3 linked regions of the Homo sapiens genome follow. The protein of the gene in region 1 purifies or fractionates together with the protein of each later gene. This does not show direct contact. Each region holds a gene or a part of one and is shown in the gene's direction. Other genes may lie near its edges. The genes, in order: NOP56, NOP2 and NOLC1.

Region 1 (3,408 bases):
GAGCTTCTCCAGTCGTGTGGTGTCTTTATCTGAATACCGCCAGAGCCTACACACTTACCTGCGCTCCAAGATGAGCCAAGTAGCCCCCAGCCTGTCAGCCCTAATTGGGGAAGCGGTGCGTCACAGGGGACTCAAAAATGGGAGAATAAGGACTGTTGCCATGTGCACCTGCACTGCTGTATTTCGTGACCCACCATGTCTTCCCTAGTTGTGCTTGATGGGGAGGTGGGGAGCAGGGCTGTCGTGCAACTGGGCAGGTCAGCAGTTCATTTCTCTGACTGCTTCCTTGACTCTCTCTCCAGGTAGGTGCACGTCTCATCGCACATGCTGGCAGCCTCACCAACCTGGCCAAGTATCCAGCATCCACAGTGCAGATCCTTGGGGCTGAAAAGGCCCTGTTCAGGTACCAGTGAGGGCACCTGCCCACAATCAGGTGCCACTTCTGGTGCCCACTGCTTGTTGGGGGATCACGGTGATGGCTGACCAGGGCTCCCTGACCTATACAGGCCTCTGCTATGGGGGTGATGGCCAGTCCTGGTGTCTGAGTGATTCCCAGGGCCCAGCAAAGGGACCAAGTTTCCAGGTCAGCGACATTGGATGCCTTCCCTCTGCCTCTGGGAGCTATGGGTTGGCATGCATTGGGGTAGAGATCCAATCTGGCCTGAGGCTCACTCAGGACTTCGGGGTGAGAGGAGGGGAGGAGCTGAGCTGCCTTGGCTAATGGGGTTGAAATTTCTGATCTTAAACTCTCCACTGAATATTCTCTCAGAGCCCTGAAGACAAGGGGTAACACTCCAAAATATGGACTCATTTTCCACTCCACCTTCATTGGCCGAGCAGCTGCCAAGAACAAAGGCCGCATCTCCCGATACCTGGCAAACAAATGCAGTATTGCCTCACGAATCGATTGCTTCTCTGGTATGGGTGGGGGGGCGTTGGCAGGTGTGAGAAGGGGCTGGGTGGCTGGGTGGGGAGGCTTGCAACCATAGCTTCCACAATGATGGCAATATTTTTCGTCAACAGCAGTTCACCTAGTGAGTGTTGAGACTCTGGGTCTGAGTGAAGCTGAGGGTAGAGGGAACACAGGGTTGGGGTAGTTTCTCTCTTTGGGCTGACAGGCTTTGTCACCCACACACATCCAGAGGTGCCCACGAGTGTATTCGGGGAGAAGCTTCGAGAACAAGTTGAAGAGCGACTGTCCTTCTATGAGACTGGAGAGATACCACGAAAGAATCTGGATGTCATGAAGGAAGCAATGGTTCAGGTCAGTTGGGCTTTGCTGGGTGTGGAGTGGCATAGCTAGCTGTTGGAGGTGATGAACTGTCTGAGCCTGACCTTGTAGAATGGAGGCAAAAAAACTGATTTAATGAGCCTGATCCAATAAAGCCAGAAAGGAGTCCTCAGAGCACCAGAAGTCTTCAGGCCCTTTTAGCACTTTTCTTTGACCAGGCAGAGGAAGCGGCTGCTGAGATTACTAGGAAGCTGGAGAAACAGGAGAAGAAACGCTTAAAGAAGGAAAAGAAACGGCTGGCTGCACTTGCCCTCGCGTCTTCAGAAAACAGCAGTAGTACTCCAGAGGAGTGTGAGGTCAGTAGGCAGCACGGCCCTGGCAGAGATCCTAGGTTGTAGGATTTTCAACAGCAGAACAAAGGATATGCTGCATCAAGCTGTGGTCTTGAGTCCAGGCTTTTGGACTGAAACAAGGACCTGAAACATCTAAAACTACCTCTTGATTCTATAGGAAGGAGATAGGTGCTGAACTTGCTCAAGAGCCCAGAGAGCTGGTTGTAGCTCACACCCGTTCCCTGGGCATGTGTGTTCTGTCCTCGGCTGCCTCCCAGGAGTCCTCAACCTGGGGTAGTGTAAATTCCTGCTCTGCTTATTATCAGACGTGTGTCCGGAGGTGGTCGTGTTTCACAGTGGGGATGGGGGCAGGGAGGTCCCCAATGTGCTAAGCTACAATCATTCTCCCTGAGATTTTCATTTAGCACCCAGTTTCTTAAACAGTGTTTCAGGGCCCTGTCTGGAACTTGGCATGATGGTTCTGTTGCGACCAGCATGGTGGGTGTTTTTTAGGTTTTTTTTTTTAATGGGCTGAGGTAATTTCTCATGACATGTTTTCCTTCTAATTTGGGACAGCCTTTGGGGTGGATTTCTAAAGTTATACCCACACAATTAAACTATCCCAGAAACACTGGGCAATGTTAACGACACGCGTTCCCCTGCCTTGGCTACTTAATTGCTGAAGATGTAATGAGCACTGTTCTCACAGCCTGTTCCCCTGTCCTTCCCTTTAGGAGATGAGTGAAAAACCCAAAAAGAAGAAAAAGCAAAAGCCCCAGGAGGTTCCTCAGGAGAATGGAATGGAAGACCCATCTATCTCTTTCTCCAAACCCAAGAAAAAGAAATCTTTTTCCAAGGAGGAGTTGATGAGTAGCGATCTTGAAGAGACCGCTGGCAGCACCAGTATTCCCAAGAGGAAGAAGTCTACACCCAAGGAGGAAACAGTTAATGACCCTGAGGAGGCAGGCCACAGAAGTGGCTCCAAGAAAAAGAGGAAATTCTCCAAAGAGGAGCCGGTCAGCAGTGGGCCTGAAGAGGCGGTTGGCAAGAGCAGCTCCAAGAAGAAGAAAAAGTTCCATAAAGCATCCCAGGAAGATTAGAATGCAAATGGACATTCTCTGGGAGGTGGGGCATACCATAGCCCAAGGTGACATTTCCCACCCTGTGCCGTGTTCCCCAATAAAAACAAATTCACAAGAGTTGGTTCATGTTCTTTATTGAACACCTTACATGGGTATGGACAGGGCCTATGGGTGGGGCAAGGCAGCAATGACAGCCTCAGTGAAGTCATGGCAAGTAGCATAGCCACCCATGTCAGAGGTTCGAACCTGTGGGGGAGAATCATCATCATCCATGTGGCCTGGGCTCCATCCTAACAATCCCCATCACCACCCAACAGTCTGTCCCCTAAGGAAGCCGGCCCAAGGACAACCTAGGCTCTACCCAGCAAGGTGACCATGGTCCACTGCTTAGAGGCACAAGGTCTCTTCCCTGGTACACTGCACTGAAGGGTATGGGGAGTGTGGTCCTTGCAAGGTTGGAAGAAATAAAGGGCTCTAGCTCCCTTTAGTCTGCAGGTGACCGATGACAGACTTGATGAAGTCGGTTGTGGTGCTGTAGCCGCCCATGTCTCGAGTCCGCACCTACAGCCACCACCGGCAACAGCCGTGGGGAGGGAGAAAAGAGAGCCCATGAAGGGAGGTAGGGCAATGTGATTGAGGAAATGGAAGCCAAGAATGCGTGACAGCCAGAAAAAAGGCAATGCACAGGAATGGAAGGAGGAGCCAGGATGGGAAGCACATGGACCTGCCACTCCTCTTAAGCCACTATTAGCTGTGCTGCAGC
Region 2 (3,646 bases), on another chromosome or scaffold:
AAGTGAGACTCTGTCTCAAAAAAAAAAAAAGTTAAGTTAAAAAATGGTTTAAAAATTAGCTGGGTGTGGTGGCGTACGCCTGTAGTCCCAGCTTCTCAGGATGCTGAAGCGGGAAGATGACTGGAGCTTGGGAGGTTGAGGCTGCAGTGAGCTGTGATCTTACCACTGCACTCCAGCTTGGGTGACAGAGTGAGACTGTCTCAAAAAAAAAAAAAAAAAATAACTGCTTCCTTTTGACATAGTAATTCCCTATTAAGGAAGATGATCCAAAATGTCAGCAAATAGTTCTTTACTGAGGTGCAGGAAGTTATTATACAATTAGTGTGTGGATGTATTATTAGAATCGTATAGAATAAAAAGAGAAGGTCCCCATGTGCACCCCCTTCCTACATCCCCTTGTATCTACAGGGTCATTATTAGGTTTGCAGGCACCATGTGGATCATAATGCCAAAAACTCAGGAAACTTCCAAAATACACAATATGCTTAAGTAAGTTATGGTTCATGCATATGATGCAGTTACACTGGTCATTATGTCTATGAAAATGCCTGTGATGTAACTGAAGTCTAAAAAGCAAGAAACAAACTTGAAAATGGATTATGTGAAAAATACAGAGTAAGTAAAAAAAAAAAAAAAACGACAAAATGGGCCAGGCACGGTGGCTCACACCTGTAATCCCAGCACTTTGGGAGGCCGAGGTGGGCGGATCACCTGAGGTCAGGAGTTCAAAACCAGCTTGGCCATCATGGTGAAACCCCATCTCTGCTAAAAATACAAAAAATTAGCTGGGCATGGTGGTGCGCGCCTATAATCCCAGCTACTTGGGAGGCTGAGGCAGGAGAATCATTTGAACCTGGGAGGCGGAGGTTGCAGTGAGCCAAGACGCGCCATTGCACTCCAGCCTGGGGGACAAGAGCGAGACTTCTCTCAAAAAAAATATGGCAGAATGGTAGTCAAGGGCCATTTTTGTCCTTCTTTATACATCCAGGTATTTTTCAAGTTTTTTTTTTTTCTTAATGGAAAAGTGAAAAACATAATAGTAGAAAGAAAAATGTAATGAACCCTTTAATTTATTACTTAGGTTTTTTTTTTTTTTTTTTGAGATGAAGTCTTTCTCTGTTGCCCAGGCTGGAGTGCAGTGGCTCGGTCTTGGCTCACTGCAACCTCCACCTCCCGGGTTCAAGCAATTCTCCTGCCTCAGCTTCCCAAGTAGCTGGGATTTACAGGTGTGTGCCACCATGCCCTCATTACTTAGTTTCAACAGTGAGCAATGCTGCGCCCATCTTATTTTCATTTCTTTGCTCCTCTATTTCCTTCTGAGAGCAAGTGTTGGATTTTTATTTAGCGAAAAAATAAGATATAGAGATAGAACTGCTACAAGGGCTGATGGAAGGGCAGGCCTGTATTAATAGCCCTTGTCTCTCTTCAGTTGCTGCCCATTGAAAGAGCTGCTCGGAAGCAGAAGGCCCGGGAAGCTGCTGCTGGGTGAGTTTTGGAAGCTATTGGGATGGAGCATAGGAAGCCACTGGGGTGGGGAAGCTGTGAGGAAGGAGGAGGTATCTGTTTTGGTCTGTGAATCACTCTGTTCCTGGACCTGTTTCTAGGATCCAGTGGAGTGAAGAGGAGACCGAGGACGAGGAGGAAGAGAAAGAAGTGACCCCTGAGTCAGGCCCCCCAAAGGTGGAAGAGGCAGATGGGGGCCTGCAGATCAATGTGGATGAGGAACCATTTGTGCTGCCCCCTGCTGGGGAGATGGAGCAGGATATCCTTGCAGGGCAGAGTGAAGAGTTAGGAGGAAGGTGGTTGGGAGAGGGATTTCCAGGCCTTAGGACATCATGACACAGTTCCTTAACAGGCCCACATGCCCAGGCTCCAGACCTGCAACGAGTTCACAAGCGGATCCAGGATATTGTGGGAATTCTGCGTGATTTTGGGGCTCAGCGGGAGGAAGGGCGGTCTCGTTCTGAATACCTGAACCGGCTCAAGAAGGATCTGGCCATTTACTACTCCTATGGAGACTTCCTGCTTGGCAAGCTCATGGACCTCTTCCCTCTGTCTGAGGTACTGGATTGCCAGAATGCCTCTTTTGCTTTTCTTTTCTCGCCTCCTTACGCTGTGTAAGGAAGATGTTCGGCCCCCTTGCTCCCCTCTTCTGACTGAGCTCCTTAGCCAGCCTCACTTATTCCCTGCTGTCTTGCCCCGCAGCTGGTGGAGTTCTTAGAAGCTAATGAGGTGCCTCGGCCCGTCACCCTCCGGACCAATACCTTGAAAACCCGACGCCGAGACCTTGCACAGGTGAGGGGTGGCCTTTGAGGCTCACTCATCTCAGAAGGGAAGTGACTTCTGCCAACTCCAGAGATTCCTCTGTGCTACCCTGACTGGGTGGGGCCTTAGGACCTAAGCATGATCCTGGGGGGGCAAACCCAGAGGCCTGATGTCTCTGGCAGGATAGGATCTGGGGGCCTAGGACCTCTGTGGAATGGGAAGTTCATACTCTGCTCCCTGTGACTAGGATGATGAGACTTCAGGATGAGCGTGCTGCCCCCAAGGAAATTGGAGGGAGATCATTGAGGAGCTGGGGAAATATGATTCCTGACTGCACAAAAAAGACACATATGCACAGTCAATATTTTAAACTCATTTCCAAGGGTTCAGGGGCCCCAGGTTAAAGACCCCTGTTGTAAAGTCAGTTGTTGGGTTATATGTGTTGTATATTTCCTGGTGTGAAGAAAACCTAATAATGTAATGTGGTATAACCAATGTCATTAAATTTTTAGTATAGTGGAGGGGCTCAGCCTCTTAGAAAATCAGATGCCACTTCTAGGAAATAAAGTAACAGGAGGTGGCATCCTGCTCCATTGGGATGAAGTTCAGATCTTGAGTTAGGAGCCTGAGGTTAAGAAAAAAGGGCACCATAGGATGGAGTGGGAGAGAGAAACTGCTCAATGACTCCATGATGACTGTGTTTGGAGTAAGCACTATAGGAGTTGTGGGGTATGGGCCATGTTTTTATGAAGCATGTGTTTAATGTCTTCATCTGTCTTCTGGGTAGAGTAGCCTATGAGGTTATTAAAATCTTCATCCCTACCGGGCGCGGTGACTCAACGCCTGTAATCCCAGCACTTTGGGAGGCCGAGGCGGGCAGATCACCTGAGGTCAGGAGTTAGAGACCAGCCTGGCCAACATGGTGAAACCCCATCCTATGAAAAATACAAAAATTAGCCAGGCATGGTGGTACATGCCCGTTGTCCCAGCTACTCAGGAGGCTGAGGCACGAGAGAATCGCTTGAATCTGGGAGGTGGAGGTTGCTGTGAGCCGAGATTGCGCCACCTCACTCTAGCCTGGGCAACAGAGTGAGACTCCATCTCAAAAAAAAAAAAAAAAAATCTTCATCCCTTTTCAGGCTCTAATCAATCGTGGGGTTAACCTGGATCCCCTGGGCAAGTGGTCAAAGACTGGACTAGTGGTGTATGATTCTTCTGTGCCCATTGGTAAGTCTCCCCCACCCAAGAGCCCTTCTACCTCTGTCCCTGTCCCTACCGCATGTCACAGGGTGGTCCTTCTCCACAGGTGCTACCCCCGAGTACCTGGCTGGGCACTACATGCTGCAGGGAGCCTCCAGCATGTTGCCCGTCATGGCCTTGG
Region 3 (3,646 bases), on another chromosome or scaffold:
ATTCTCCTCGATGGCTGCTCTAAAGTTGAAAGAATTGGTGGACTCCTGGCCAGGCACAGTGGCTCACACCTATAATCCCAGCACTTTGGGAGGCTGAGGCGGGCGGATTGCTTGAGGTCAGGAGTTCAAGACCAGCCTGGCCAACATGGCGAAACCCTGTGTCTACTAAAAATATAAAAATTAGCTGGGCATGGTGGTGGGCACCTGTAATCCCAGCTACTCCAGAGGCTGAGGCGGGAGAGTTGCCTGAACCACTGCACACTAGCCTGTGCAACAGAGCCAGAGCCAGACTCCGTCTCCAAAAAAAAAAAAAAAAAAAAAAAAAAAAATGGTGGACTCCTAAGTTCTCTGCTCATAGGAAGGAGGTTTTTCATGGTCCTGACTTGCCCTAATACTCCTTACTCTTTCTTTTTCTTGGGTATTCCAGCTCGAGCAGCACCTAAAATAGCCAATGGTAAAGCAGCCAGTAGCAGCAGTAGCAGCAGCAGCAGCAGTAGCAGTGATGACTCAGAGGAGGAGAAGGCAGCAGCCACCCCCAAGAAGGTCTGGACCATAACTTCTGTCAGGGCAGAGGTGACCAGGGTGTGATGTGTGTGTGTCTTCCTTCCCTGGCAGGATTGGTTGGGTCAGCATTTTCCTGTGGTAATCAATTTTCTTTCTAATGCAGACTGTACCTAAAAAGCAAGTTGTGGCCAAGGCCCCAGTGAAAGCAGCTACCACCCCTACCCGGAAGAGTTCTAGCAGTGAGGATTCCTCCAGTGACGAGGAAGAGGAGCAAAAAAAACCCATGAAAAATAAACCAGGTGACTGGACATGGGGAGCGAAGCTGTGTGACTGTGGTCAGGGCCCAGCTGCAGTAACCACATGGACCTCTCCATAGAGGTGCATGAGCGTCCTCATGACATGACAGCTAGCTTCTCCGAGCACTAGTGATCCAGGAAAGCAAGGAGAAATCTCCAGTGCCTTGTGTAACCTAGACTCAGAGGTGACACCATGTTCTGTTAGAACTGAGTCATTGATTCTGGCCCATACTCAAGTGAAGGGGAATTAAGCTTCATTTCTACAAGAAAGTAGTATCAAAAAAAGTTGTAGACATATCCTAAAACCATCACACTATCCTTTTTAAACAGGTCCCTACAGTTCAGTCCCCCCGCCTTCTGCTCCCCCACCAAAGAAGTCTCTGGGAACCCAGCCTCCCAAGAAGGCTGTGGAGAAGCAGCAGCCTGTGGAAAGCAGTGAAGACAGCAGTGATGAGTCTGGTGAGTCAGAGGGATGCAGCCTCCCCTCAGCGTGGGTCTGGAGGAGGGGATGAGGAATAAGGGAGAGAGAAAGCCTTCCATCCTTCGGTTGCTTTTTGCTTAAAGCAAGACAGAGCTAAGGCTCTGTGCGTGTCTTTGCATTCTTTTTATTGCTGTCCTGGTTGGGTTGGGACTCTGGACCCAGCATAATGCTACAGGTTCTCCTCAGATTCAAGTTCTGAAGAAGAGAAGAAACCCCCAACTAAGGCAGTAGTCTCTAAAGCAACCACTAAACCACCTCCAGCAAAGAAAGCAGCAGAGAGCTCTTCAGACAGCTCAGGTAAGGCATATGGAGGCCCTCAGTTCAGTGAGATGCTCTCAGGCAGCTGCTAAGGGCTCCCCTGAATCCAATTTGGGGAGCTGTTGATTCCATCCCTTCTGTGTCTAGACTCTGACAGCTCTGAGGATGATGAAGCTCCTTCTAAGCCAGCTGGTACCACCAAGAATTCTTCAAATAAGCCAGCTGTCACCACCAAGTCACCTGCAGTGAAGCCAGCTGCAGCCCCCAAGCAACCTGTGGGCGGTGGCCAGAAGCTTCTGACGAGAAAGGCTGACAGCAGCTCCAGTGAGGAAGAGAGCAGCTCCAGTGAGGAGGAGAAGACAAAGAAGATGGTGGCCACCACTAAGCCCAAGGCGACTGCCAAAGCAGCTCTATCTCTGCCTGCCAAGCAGGCTCCTCAGGGTAGTAGGGACAGCAGCTCTGATTCAGACAGCTCCAGCAGTGAGGAGGAGGAAGAGAAGACATCTAAGTCTGCAGTTAAGAAGAAGCCACAGAAGGTAGCAGGAGGTGCAGCCCCTTCCAAGCCAGCCTCTGCAAAGAAAGGAAAGGCTGAGAGCAGCAACAGTTCTTCTTCTGATGACTCCAGTGAGGAAGAGGAAGAGAAGCTCAAGGGCAAGGGCTCTCCAAGACCACAAGCCCCCAAGGCCAATGGCACCTCTGCACTGACTGCCCAGAATGGAAAAGCAGCTAAGAACAGTGAGGAGGAGGAAGAAGAAAAGAAAAAGGCGGCAGTGGTAGTTTCCAAATCAGGTCTGTACCCAATGAACATGCCCTCTGGGTTTTGTCCCCCCAAATCAGGATGGGATATACTCTTTGAGAGTAGGGTAGTGAGAGGAGGCCCACCACTGGGCTTCCAGTTGTGGAAACTGGGAGGAAGAACAGGAAACTGGTTACCTTTTTTTTTTTTTATTAGAGTCTCACTGTGTCACCCAGACCAGGGTGCAATGGCATGATCACGGCTTGTGCAGCCTTAACCTCATGGACTCAGGTGATCTTTCCACCCCAGCCTCCTGAGTAGCCGGGACTACAAGCATGCACCACCATGTCTGGCTCATTTTTTTAACTTTTTATAGAGACAGAATCTCACTATATTGCCCAGGCTGATCTGAATTTCCTGGGCTCAAGCGATCCTCCTACCTTGGACTCCCAAAATGCTGGGGTTACAGTTGTGAGCCACTGTACTCGGCCTGAGTCTGGCTTTTTGTTTTGTAGGTTCATTAAAGAAGCGGAAGCAGAATGAGGCTGCCAAGGAGGCAGAGACTCCTCAGGCCAAGAAGATAAAGCTTCAGACCCCTAACACATTTCCAAAAAGGAAGAAAGTAAGTTGTCTCACTTTCTTCTCAGGAGCCAGCTCTTTAAAAGTAGAAAAATCTAGGATCATCTTGACAGCTCTGCCTGGCGTGACCTGGTACATGTGCCCATGTGTATCACTCAGGAGAACTGTTACATGACCACTCTGTCTTTAATTTCCTACTTCATTCTTCTGTAGGGAGAAAAAAGGGCATCATCCCCATTCCGAAGGGTCAGGGAGGAGGAAATTGAGGTGGATTCACGAGTTGCGGACAACTCCTTTGATGCCAAGGTGAGAGAGAGATCTGTGCCATTCTTGGGAGGGAGGATGGGTAGTGTCAGAGAGGACAATTCTTGGTTCAGGTTGGTGGGAATCTTCTCTGGGTTCAGGTTTCCTTGAGCAGGGAGTAGAAAGAATAAAGTGACAGGGCTCCAGCATGGTCCTCCTCTGTGTTAATCTCCCTCTCTACTTACCAGCGAGGTGCAGCCGGAGACTGGGGAGAGCGAGCCAATCAGGTTTTGAAGTTCACCAAAGGCAAGTCCTTTCGGCATGAGAAAACCAAGAAGAAGCGGGGCAGCTACCGGGGAGGCTCAATCTCTGTCCAGGTCAATTCTATTAAGTTTGACAGCGAGTGACCTGAGGCCATCTTCGGTGAAGCAAGGGTGATGATCGGAGACTACTTACTTTCTCCAGTGGACCTGGGAACCCTCAGGTCTCTAGGTGAGGGTCTTGATGAGGACAGAAGTTTAGAGTAGGTCCTAAGACTTTACAGTGTAA

What was found.
Region 2: the proteins of NOP56 (region 1) and NOP2 fractionate together in Homo sapiens (co-fractionation; 3 studies listed by BioGRID and IntAct, with this or other methods). This does not show direct contact.
Region 3: the proteins of NOP56 (region 1) and NOLC1 purify together in Homo sapiens (affinity purification with mass spectrometry; 6 studies listed by BioGRID and IntAct, with this or other methods). This does not show direct contact.

The regions. Positions count from the first base shown.
Region 1 is NC_000020.11:2,655,632-2,659,039, forward strand, and holds the end of NOP56 (nucleolar protein 56), read left to right. Parts: coding exon 1-115; intron 116-302; coding exon 303-403; exon of another isoform or gene 404-583; intron 584-769; coding exon 770-918; intron 919-992; exon of another isoform or gene 993-1,063; intron 1,064-1,142; coding exon 1,143-1,264; intron 1,265-1,307; exon of another isoform or gene 1,308-1,379; intron 1,380-1,449; coding exon 1,450-1,587; intron 1,588-1,741; exon of another isoform or gene 1,742-1,857; intron 1,858-2,297; coding exon 2,298-2,663; 3' UTR 2,664-2,762; downstream 2,763-3,408. Other genes in the region: IDH3B (isocitrate dehydrogenase [NAD] subunit beta, mitochondrial isoform e precursor), read right to left, coding at 2,878-2,891, 3,128-3,206. UniProt on the Homo sapiens protein: Involved in the early to middle stages of 60S ribosomal subunit biogenesis. Required for the biogenesis of box C/D snoRNAs such U3, U8 and U14 snoRNAs. Part of the small subunit (SSU) processome, first precursor of the small eukaryotic ribosomal subunit.
Region 2 is NC_000012.12:6,561,730-6,565,375, reverse strand, and holds part of NOP2 (28S rRNA (cytosine(4447)-C(5))-methyltransferase), read left to right. Parts: intron 1-1,127; coding exon of another isoform or gene 1,128-1,226; intron 1,227-1,429; coding exon 1,430-1,485; intron 1,486-1,604; coding exon 1,605-1,762; intron 1,763-1,861; coding exon 1,862-2,061; intron 2,062-2,205; coding exon 2,206-2,295; intron 2,296-3,404; coding exon 3,405-3,492; intron 3,493-3,571; coding exon 3,572-3,646. UniProt on the Homo sapiens protein: S-adenosyl-L-methionine-dependent methyltransferase that specifically methylates the C(5) position of cytosine 4447 in 28S rRNA. Required for efficient rRNA processing and 60S ribosomal subunit biogenesis.
Region 3 is NC_000010.11:102,158,766-102,162,411, forward strand, and holds part of NOLC1 (nucleolar and coiled-body phosphoprotein 1), read left to right. Parts: intron 1-427; coding exon 428-543; coding exon of another isoform or gene 544-573; intron 574-667; coding exon 668-803; intron 804-1,130; coding exon 1,131-1,259; intron 1,260-1,467; coding exon 1,468-1,578; intron 1,579-1,686; coding exon 1,687-2,328; intron 2,329-2,790; coding exon 2,791-2,897; intron 2,898-3,067; coding exon 3,068-3,160; intron 3,161-3,345; coding exon 3,346-3,504; 3' UTR 3,505-3,646. UniProt on the Homo sapiens protein: Nucleolar protein that acts as a regulator of RNA polymerase I by connecting RNA polymerase I with enzymes responsible for ribosomal processing and modification.